Linked DNA regions of Homo sapiens. The protein of the gene in region 1 interacts with the protein of each later gene in a pairwise test. Each region holds a gene or a part of one and is shown in the gene's direction. Other genes may lie near its edges.

What was found.
Region 2: the proteins of BDNF (region 1) and TLE6 interact in binary tests that used the Homo sapiens proteins (3 or more experiments, as listed by UniProt).
Region 3: the proteins of BDNF (region 1) and SLC41A3 interact in binary tests that used the Homo sapiens proteins (3 or more experiments, as listed by UniProt).

What each region holds. Positions count from the first base shown.
Region 1 is NC_000011.10:27,693,805-27,697,455, reverse strand, and holds part of BDNF (neurotrophic factor BDNF precursor form isoform a preproprotein), read left to right. Parts: intron 1-3,651. UniProt on the Homo sapiens protein: Important signaling molecule that activates signaling cascades downstream of NTRK2. During development, promotes the survival and differentiation of selected neuronal populations of the peripheral and central nervous systems.
Region 2 is NC_000019.10:2,983,995-2,987,645, forward strand, and holds part of TLE6 (transducin-like enhancer protein 6), read left to right. Parts: exon of another isoform or gene 1-225; intron 226-2,834; coding exon 2,835-2,897; intron 2,898-2,988; coding exon 2,989-3,244; intron 3,245-3,361; coding exon 3,362-3,378; intron 3,379-3,651. UniProt on the Homo sapiens protein: Component of the subcortical maternal complex (SCMC), a multiprotein complex that plays a key role in early embryonic development.
Region 3 is NC_000003.12:126,077,535-126,081,185, reverse strand, and holds part of SLC41A3 (solute carrier family 41 member 3), read left to right. Parts: intron 1-3,651. UniProt on the Homo sapiens protein: Na(+)/Mg(2+) ion exchanger that acts as a predominant Mg(2+) efflux system at the mitochondrial inner membrane.

The sequences.
Region 1 (3,651 bases):
TTCTAAAATCCTGGCTCAAAGTCCGTGGGTTTCCTGTTTAAAAGGGGCGCCATGAAAATGTAAGCTATTCCCTTTTTCCTGGAATCTTTAAGAGTCCCAGCTTTTCAATAGTCAAAATGTAGATGATTGATATCATTTCTTATATGAATAGCACTGGTTTGTAGTTCAGCACGCACAGTGAGCTGGGCACGCCCACCTGATAGTATAGCAGAGAACTTGTTTACATTCTTTTTACATTCATCTTCTAAAACCTGGGGTGCTCTCTCTCTCTCTCTCTCTCTCTCTCTCTCTGTGTGTGTGTGTGTGTGTGTGCGTGCACGTGCGCGTGTGTGTAGAGGGGGAGAGAGAGAGAGAGAGAACTGTGAACTGTGAAATATAACACAGCCAGCAGCTTTGGGTCTCAATCGTAGACTTACTCTTAAGGAAATTTACAGAATGGAAAGGTCATGTTCAAGTAGTTTATTAACATTTTGAGATGTAGGAAATTAATCCCGGAGTACAGAAGAACAATTTCAGACTTCCTGAATAAAAACAGACAGCATAGAGAGTGGATGATAGCTAAACTCTGAATATCTTTTGAGAAGAAAGGCACTCCCATTTCAGGTGCCCATAATATGGATTTGATTTTAGTGATTAAAACATTAATTTTCAACTTGCATCTCCCTGTGTGGAAGAGTTCAATTTGTGTGAGGGGTCTCGCCTATCCAACAAAAGTGAATATGTCCCTTTTATAGGGTAATTGCTAACTTGTCTCAACTTGTTTTCAAACAATTGTTATAGAGCACTCAGTTTCCACTAATTGCAAAATTGTTGCTTAATTGAAGGACTCTCAGCCATCTAGTGCAGCCATTCAGCCACTGGCAGGCTCTGTGATCTCAAACTGTGAATTGCATTTTAAAGAGGAATCGAGGAGAGAATTCTGTGGAATTCTAGGTTTTAAGTGCTGGCTGTTGTTCAATGGAAGAGGAAATCATTTGAACAAGAATCGCATCAAGTTGTGTTGTGATAAATTTTCTTTATTAGGATGAATAACATGCACAGATGAGCTTCAAAAGTGAATGAGCAAACTTACTGGTTACACTCTGCATCCATTTACTCTGTTTAGTATGGAGTAATGTTAGGCAATAAATGATGCTGGCAAATGAAATCCGTATGTTATTTGCATGTGGTATTTAAACCTAGGAAACATAGAGTGGCTTTGGTATTTGTAGGCTTAGTCATGTGTGTCCTAAACGTCCTCTTAAACTTCTACTTAAGGCATAGAATTATTTAATCCTAAATAATTTTATACTTAAGTGCCTCACTGGATTTCCAGAATATTTACACTGTAAAGATTTAGAAAGGTCATGAACCCAATTATTGACTATATGGAATCATTATTGATGGCAGATGCAAAATGGAGCTCACTAATGTACTGACATTGAAAACCTTTTGCAGGGGAGAGGAGGGGGAGTGGTAAATGTGTGTGTTCTTTAAGTGGAACAGGAAGGTATTCTCTTTTCTGTAGAAAAATTTGAGTATCTGGTCAGATAAGTGTGGAAGCTTTCATTTAAATTAAGTATTTAAGTTCAAGTAGAAGCTCTAGGGCACTTATCCTCTTGATGAGACAAATCTTATCAAATATACTAGATGCTAAGAAGTGGCTCATTGCCCTGATGTCTCATTTATAGATTGATGTTTGAGGATGGGTTGCATTAAGTGAGTTAGGGGGCTGAGTGTGGGACAGGAGAACGATTGGAAGGAAGCAAAGTAAATTTACAAGCTTTAGTGACAGCCATAATAAAGTAAAAGTTTATTTCCAGAGAGCCTAGAGAGTAAGGAACGTTATATAGTTTTCCCCAAAGGTTCACTTGAAAGAACTTTTCATTGGTTGTCATGGTAGTAATGTCCTGATTTTGAAATCTCCCAGAACCTAGTAGCTCTTAAACATGCTTTCATCTTGGTTCCTTTGGTCTGACGGAAACTTTATGACGACCCTCTGTGTTTTTGACATGCCTCTGCATTTTTGGAGAGAGGAGGTCAGGCAAGGGAGGATTTCTTAAAACTAAGACAGTATAGTAAGGAAACATAAAATTATATGATAAAAAATCACTGAACTTCAAATTGACTTACTGAAATAAAACCTAGAAGGCAACCTGTCGTTTAATTACAACTAGCTTGTATAAAATTAAAATTTATAAAATGGGAATTCAAAGAAAATAAACGGGCAGTTCCAAGTAATTTAAGCAACTCACCAAAAATTGAAGTAATAGTGCCACCTAGAGAACAAAATCACCAGCTTTACTAGCCAAATGGCTTATTTCCATATGAACCATTTTTCCAACGCTACAGTTACTAGGATTTCCTTGTTACCATATTCAGATCTTGTGAGTGTGTATGGGGGTGGGGGTTGCATGTGGAATTACAGATGAAATTTTAAAACAAGCAGATCCACAATTTGATATATGCACTAAATCCTTTTAACGTTGTAATGTAGCCAAATGTAGAATAGCATGCCAGGAATCAACGGCTAGCATCCTTTTTAACATTTATTATTTTCATGGATATGTACCAAACCGAACCATTGAGTATAAAGGTTCTGATTTTATTTATTTGCTACAGGCAATTCATTATACTTTCTGAGATACAATAACACCAAATAATTTGAGTAGAGAGACCTTTAAGAATGTTTTCGATTTATGATCTACCTTTAACTTTAATGTACTCAGAAGATGTGAGAATAAAATAAAGTCAAATATAAGCAAGATTTTAAACACACACACAAAAAACAAACAAACAAGAAAAAGGAAGAAAATTATAAGGATTGCCTTAACCTTAGAATAGATGAAGGTATACATCTGAGCCAGCACCAAAAAAAAAAAAAAAAAAAGTTATGGAACCAGGAACCAATAATTACAAATTGACTTAAAATTCTTGGATGACAAAAATCTATATTTAGTTCATTTTTGCATGCGCCCACAACAGCATCCAAAACAGTTCTGGGGAGGCACTTTGATAAATGTTGCTGAATGCACTAATAGATTGATTAATGGCTGCTTCAGATTATCACTAGTGATGTAGACAGAAACTTCATGAAAATGGTTTGTCTTGCTGGAAGAAAGGCAGAAATTGGAGGAAAAGGTTTAATAATATTTTTCCCCAGTACCTATTATAAAAGTCATTTAGTTGGCTTAGTTCTATAATTTCTTATGTGTAATTTGATTCACTTATGAAATTGTGAATATATGAAATGTTAAAGTTGATTTAGACAGCAACTATAAGCTTGTGGATTTTCTTTTAAATGTCTTCAAATTTTTAAATGCCAGTGGAGATGCCAGCGACTGTGCTTCAGGGAGTAGAATATAGTATATCTTAAATTTGTGCCAATTTCTGGTAAGCAGAGAAAAAATTGCATGATAACCAAAGAAAGTCATATTGTTTGTGCTTTGTGTTATTCATGGAAGCAATCAGGTGCAGAAAACTTTCTTTTTCAGAAAAAAAAAATTACTAAAATAAAGGTGCGTGTGTGTGTATGCACATATATCTAAAGGGAGAGAGGGAGAAGGAAACTTACTAAATAAAATTTTTGCCACATGGGATTTAGTCTAATCAGTCTTGGTTTTGGAGTTGCTATCATCAGTAGTTCCATTTTGTGATTCTTTCTTTCTGCCT
Region 2 (3,651 bases), on another chromosome or scaffold:
GGCCCCAGGATCCCTGGCAGCCCAGCCTGGCCTGTGGTCCTGGGCAGTCCGCTTCCCCCACCCGCTGCTTCCAGTTCCGGGCTTTCCCAGCCGCCTCGCTGTGCTTTCAAAATCGCCATCAGCACAGCCCCCTCCTCCGACAGCCCGCCTGCCACTCTCCCCCGGGAGGGCTGCTAGCAGGCACAAGGGAGCCACACTTTTCATGCTGAGCGCATTAAAGTGCCGGTAAATTGCGCATTAACGAGGCGGGGTGAATTGGAGAGGGCTCCCCTGGGATTTGCTGCTGCTGGGCGGGCTCAGCTGGGAAATCCATCACTGGCTGCCCCAGGAGGCATCAGCCTGGAGTCCCCCCCCCCCCGCGGGGCTCCGATGGAGGGTCTCCCCTCCCGGCCCCTCCCTCCGCCGTCCTGCTAAGGAAACAGACAGGTAGCCTTTTTGTAGAAAAAAACTTAAGAGATAGGATCACTCGCCTTGCTTTCTTTTTTTGTTGTTTTGACGGATCATGCTCCGTCTCCCAGGCTGGAGTGCAGTGGGAGGATCTCAGCTCACTGCAACCTCCACCTCCTGGGTTCAAGTGATTCTCCTGCCTCAGCCTCCCAAGTAGCTGGGATTACAGGTGTGTGTCACCATGCCTGGCTAACTTTTATGTTTTTAGTAGAGACAGGGTTTTGCCATGTTGGCCAGGCTGGTCTCGAACTTCTGACCTCAGGTGATCCGCCCGCCTCAGCCTCTCAAAGTGCTGGGATTACCGGTGTGAGCCATCGCACCTGGCCAATTTCTTTATACTTTGAACATGGCTACTAGACATTCCATATGCATGACTATATTTATGTATTATTCCAATTCTACTTGTACTGGATGGTATTGATCTCGATTTTATTCTGTTTACTGAGAAACTACATTTAACTTCGGGATTGACAGTGGTCAGATGGCTTGATTTTTGTTGTTGTTTGTTCGTTTTAAATAAAACACCAGACTGGGTGAGGTGGCTCACGCCTGTAATCCCAGCACTTTGGGAGGCTGAGGTGGGCAGATCACCTGACGTCAGGAGTTCGAGACCAGCCTGGCCAACATGGAGAAACCCCATTTCTACTAAAAATACAAAATTAGCTGGGCATGGTGGCGGGTGCCTGTAATCCCAGCTACTTGGGAGCCTGAGGCAGGAGAATTGCTTTAACCCAGGAGGCAGAGGTTACAGTGAGCAGAGGTGGTGCCATTGCACTCCAGCCTGGGCGACAGAGCAAGACTGTCTCAAAAGAGAAAAAAAAATTACCACTGACTTGTTTCTATCAATTCTCCCCAGCAGGTAACCCTCAGTTTCTTAGTATCTTTCCAAAGTTTAAGCAAATTAAAACGTCTTCCTCACCTAGGGAGACCTAGGTATGCTGTTTTGCTGCTTGAAGCCTTTTTTTTTTTTTTTTTTTTTGAGACAAGTCTCGCTCTGTCACCCAGGCTGGAGTGCGGTGGCATCATCTCGCATCTGGGCTCACTGCAAGCTCCGCCTCCTGGGTTCAAGCCATTCTCCTGCCTCAGCCTCCCGAGTAGCTGGGACTACAGGCACCTGCCACCATGCCTGGCTAATTTTTTTTTTTTTTTTTGTATTTTTAGTAGAGATGGAGTTTCACCATGTTAGCCAGGATGGTCTCAATCTCCTGACCTCATGATCCGCCCGCCTCGGCCTCCCAGAGTGCTGGGATTACAGGCGTGAGCCACCGCACCCGGCCTGCTTGAAGTCATTTGAAGCAAAGTGTGGTGGTGGTCAGGTTTTCTTTTTAAAACATCCCAAAAAGAGTAGCTGGGGCCAGGTGTGGTGGCTCACACCTGTAATCCCAGCACTTTGGGAGGCCAAGGCAGGAGAATCATCTTAGGTCAAGAGTTCAAGACCAGCCCGGCCAACATGGTGAAACCCTGTCTCCACCAAAAATACAAAAATCAGTCTGTGTAGTGGCACACGCCTGTAATCCAGCTACTTGGGAGGCTGAGGCAGGAGAATTGCTTGAACCCAGGAGGCGGAGGTTGCAGTGAGCCGAGATCACATCACTGCACTCCTGCCTGGGCCACAGCGTGAGACTGTCTCAAAAAAAAAAAAAAAAAAAAAAAAAAAAAAAAAAAAAAAGATATATGCCAGGTGCGATAGGCCGGATGCGGTGGCTTAAACCTGTTATCCCAGCACTTTGGGAGGCACACGTGGGAGGATAGTTTGAGGCCAGGAATTCAAGACCAGCCTGGCCAACATAATGAGACTCCCATTTCTACAAAAAGTGTATTTAAATTAGCTGAGCGTGGTGGTGCATACCTGTAACCCCAGCTACTCAGGAGGCTGAGATGGGAGGATCACTTGAGCCTGGGAGGTTGAGGGTGCAGTGAGCTGTAATCGCACCACTGCACTCCAGCCTGGGTGTCAGAGTGAGATCTTATCTGCAAAAAAGTAGATGAAGGCTGGGGGTGGTGGCTTATGCCTATAATCCCAGCACTTTGGGAGGCTGAGGTGGGCAGATCACCTGAGGTCAGGAGTTGGAGACCAGCCTGGCCAACATGGTGAAACCCCATCTTTACTAAAAATACAAAAATTAGCTGGGTGTGGTGGTGTGCACCTGTAATCCCAGCTACTCAGGAGGCTGAGGCAGGAGAACCACTTGAACCTGGGAGGCGGAGGTTGCAGTGAGCCGAGATTGCACCACTGCACTCCAGCTTGGGTGACAGAGTGAGACTCTGTCTCAAAAAAACAAGTAGATTGATATACCTTCTTCTACAGGTGGGGATAATCATGCTGTAGGATTGCAAACCCTTAACTGCAACAACATTTAACTGTTTTGCTGCCAACCTCCTTCTAGATAGGAAACGTCTTACAGATTGTGGAGAGCTGCAGCCAACTCCAGGGTTTCCAGTCTGAGGAGGTGAGTTTCTGGGTCTTCAAGGAGGGGAGGGGACAGGCTTGGGTGAAGGCTCATCCTCAAAGCTCTCACTGCCTTGTTCCTGCCGGGCCAGGTCTCACCTGCTGAACCAGCCAGCCCTGGGACGCCCCAGCAGGTGAAGGACAAGACCCTGCAGGAGTCGAGCTTTGAGGACATCATGGCCACCAGGTCCTCCGACTGGCTCCGGCGGCCTTTGGGGGAGGACAATCAGCCGGAGACCCAGCTGTTCTGGGACAAGGAGCCTTGGTTTTGGCACGACACTCTGACCGAGCAACTCTGGCGGATTTTTGCCGGCGTCCACGATGAGAAGGCAAAGCCCAGAGACAGACGTGAGTGTCCCTGAGGGTGAGGGGGAAGGGGCAGCCACAGGCTGCGTCTCAGGGGCTGTGCAGTGAACCCTGCTGTTCTCTCTGTCCCCCTCCTCCTCTCCGTTGTCATGGTGACAGAGCAGGCACCAGGCCTGGTGAGTAAACAACCTCAGCTCTATCCAGAGGGGTGGGCTTCCGGGCAGGCGGTTGGGCTCCCCCAGGTCAGGGCACTGGGGTTCCTGTGGGATTTGTCTTCCTTCCATCCTGCCCCTCGGGTCCCCCGGGGGGGACTTGGGTGATCCAGGAGGCTATACTGGAGTAGCCCAGGACCCACAGCCCAGGGCTTCCAGGACCCTATACCCTGACTCTCTCTCTGCAACTCTGCCTGGACCCGCAGACAGGACCCCAGGCAGCTGACAAGCCCTGTG
Region 3 (3,651 bases), on another chromosome or scaffold:
TTCTTTATGGCTGAATAGTACTCCATTGTGTATATGTACCGCATCTTCTTTATCCTTTCATCTGGTATGGAAACTTAGGTTGATCCATATCTTAGCTATTGTGAATAGTGCTGCAAGAAACATGGGGTACAGATATCTCTTCAATATCCTGGTTTCCTTTCTTTTGGATATGTACCCATTAGTGGGATTGCCGGATCATATGGTAGTTCTGTTTTTAGTTTGTTTTTTTTTTTCAGAGATGGAATCTCGCTCTGTTGCCCAGGCTAGAGTGCAGTGGCACAATCTCAGCTCACCACAACCTCCACCTCCTGGGTTCAAGTGACTCTCATGCCTCAGCCTCCCAAGTAGCTGGAACTACAGGCGTGTGTCACCACACCCAGCTAATTTTTTGTATTTTAGTAGAGATGGGGTTTTGGCATGTTGGCCAGGCTGGTCTCAAGCTCCTGGCCTCAAGTTATTCTCCCACCTTGGCCTCCCAAAGTGCTGGGATTACAGGCTTGAGCCACTGCATCTGGCTTGCTTTTAGTTTTTAAAGGAACTTCCATACTGTTCTCCATAGTGGCTGAACTAGTTTACATTCCCACTAACAGTGTACGAGGAACACTTTCTCCACATCCTTACCAGTGTCCATTATTCCCTGTCTTTTTTATAAAAGCCATTTAAAATGGGGTGGGATAATATCTCATTGTGGCTTTGACTTGCATTTCTCTCATGATTAGTGATGTTGAGTACTTTTTGCATATATGTGAGCCATTTATGTCTTCTTTTGAGAAATATCTATTCAGATCTTTTGGCCATATTTTAATTGGATTTTTTTTATATTGAGTTGTTTGAATTCCTGGTACTATATATTCTGGTTATTAATCCCTTGTGAGATGAGTGGTTTCAGATATTTTCTTCCATTCTGTGGGTTATTTTTTCACTTTGTTGTTTCCTTTGCTGTGCAGAAACTTTTTAGCTTGATGTAATCCCATTTGTCTATTTTTGCTTTGGTTGCCTGTGTTTTTGAGGTCTTACACAAAAAGTCTGCCCAGACCAATGTCCTGCAAAATTTCCCCAATATTTTCTACTAGTAGTTTCATGGTTTTAAATCATATAAGCCTTTAATCTGTTTTGATGTGATTTTTTAATATAGTGAGAAATAGGGGTCTAGTTTCATTCTTCTGTATATGGATATCCTGTTTTTCCAGTCCATCTATTGAGGAGACTGTCCTTTCCCCAGAGTATGTTCCTTGTGCATTTGTCAAAAATGAGTTGGCTATAAGTGTGTGGATTTATATCTAGGTTCTCTCTTCTGTCCATTGGCTTATGTGTCTGCCAGTACCATGCTGATTTGGTTACTACAGCTTTGTAGTATATTTTGAAGTCACTATGATGCTTCAAGCTTTATTCTTTTTGCTCAGGATTGCTTTGGCTATTTGGGGTCTATTGTAGTTACATATAAATTTTAGAATTGTTTTTTCTATTTCTGTGAAGAATGACATTGGTATTTTGGTAGTGATTGCATTGAATCTGTAAATTGCGTTGGGTAAAATTGTCATTTTCATTGAAATTCTTCCATTCCTCAAACATAATGTATCTTTCCATCGGCTTTCATTTTTATTTCCCTAACCTCTTCTCAGGTGGCTGTCTAGGCTGCCTTTGTGTTTCTCCAGCTGAGCTCTTGTTCCCATCCTGTGTCAGTTTCTCCATGGTTTTCTCTGTAGGAGTTCTTCATTCTTTTTGCACACTTATCCTTTGTCTCTTGTATTGGGTCCAACTATTTTCTCCTAGGCTTTTGCTTGCTTTTAAATTTTATTTAGAAGTTTTGTCCTACAGAATATTTAAACTTTGATGTAGCTAAATTAATCATTTTTCCCCTTTGGTTTTTGCTTTCTATTGTGTGTGTGTGTGTGTGTGTGTGTGTCCCTTACCCTTAAGGAATTTAAATCCCTGATCGTGTGTGGGTGTGTGTGTGTGTGTGTGTGTGTGTGTTTCCCTTACCTTAAGGAGTTTAAATCCCTGATTTAGGTTCAAATTTTTTTCTGGCTGTCCACTTCCCTGGTTGCTCAGGACATCCAAGCCCTGCCTTTCTGGCAGAGGGAGCTGGGAAAAGTTAACCACCTCTCTTTGTTCCTGTCCATAAGCCTTGGGCGTCTGGGTGCCTGTAGCATTGCTCGGGTGACCACTGGCCTTGGCAAGAACAGTTTGCATCAGGAGAAGAGGAGGGGAGGTGAGAACACACTGTGGGCATGATTCTTTGTATAGTTTTGCCATGAAGAGGAGGAGGGGAATGAAGTGAGAGATAGCTTGACGTCAAGGCTGGGTTTATAGAGGCAGATCCTAGAGCAAGTTTCTGTTCTCATCAGATGATCCCACAGAGGTAGAGGGGAGAAACTGAGGAGGCAGGAGAGAGGGGTTCCTTGTAGGTGCGACCCCTTGAGAGGACCCTGGTAGGGTCCCAGGCCTAGGGGAGACACTGGCCTTTCTGGTGCTCTTTTAATTCTCTGTTTCCTCTTCTGCGTAAAGTGATCGTTAATAGTCTAGCCTTCCCACAGTCCCGTAAGGATTAAAGGAGGTAAAGGCATACTGCATAGGTCATCGGTAGCTGTGTCTGTTATTTTTTGAAAAGATTAGGGATCTGGCATTGCAGGGACCCCATGATCCCCACCCTGTTCTGCCAAGCATCCTTCCTCCTCATGGTTCTGGGGCTTCCACCCAGAGAAGCAGAGTGGGGCCTGGAGAGCCGGCCGATAGCTCAGCTCTGTGTGGTACGGGTTCCTCCCAGTGTGGGCAGGGTCCAAGTCCTCCTCCTCTCCTTTCTTCTCCACTAGCTGTCTCTCCATGATCTCCAGGCTTCCAGTGTGAGCCTGGCTCAGTTTTACCAGCATTGCTACAGAGGATGTGATAGGAATTTAAAGAAAATGGCTGGTCTGGCCTGAGGGGTCAGGCTGGAAGGTTGAGGACGAGAAGGTCATGAGGAAGGTGGAATGGGTTCTGCTGTTAGGACCTAAGGGATGCAGCAGTGGCCTTGCCTAGCCAGGAGAGTGGCCATTCCTGCCTGTGGGAGTGGGGTGGAGAGTTGGAGGGGCCTGGTGTGGTGAGAGGGAGGCATTTTCTGCCCCTGGCATTGGGCCCCTGCAGGTCCTTCAGGGAGGTGGGAGGCAGGTGGGAGTAGGCAGTTCCCATCTCTGTTTATTGCCTCTTGGAGCCACACCGGTGCCGCCTGGGCCCAGGTTCTCTGGGCTGGATGAGGGGCACCGTTCCTGCCACCGAGGGTGCCGCCAACTCGAGATGCCTCCCTGTGCCCTGTCCCCACTGCACATCACAGTCGCCCAGGCCGGCGGCTCCTTTGCTAACTCATCACCTGCTCCATTCAGGCCCCTGAGAAGGAAGCACGGAGGAGGCAAGAGGCGCCATGACTCTCAGCTTCTCCCTGCTGCAAGGCACAGTGTGGGGCACACATCCCTGTTCAGTTCTTCCGTCAGCTCCTCCTGAATCCATAAATTCCTTGGGAAAATGTTTTACCAGCAGTTGGGAGGCATAAGCCTACCACCTCATTCCTTACCTGAAACTGTGATTGACAAGCAAGGATGACAAGCAGGCATGTAGACATTTTACTGAACACGGGCCAGAGATGTATACTTTCTATCAAATAAAATCCAGGATCTA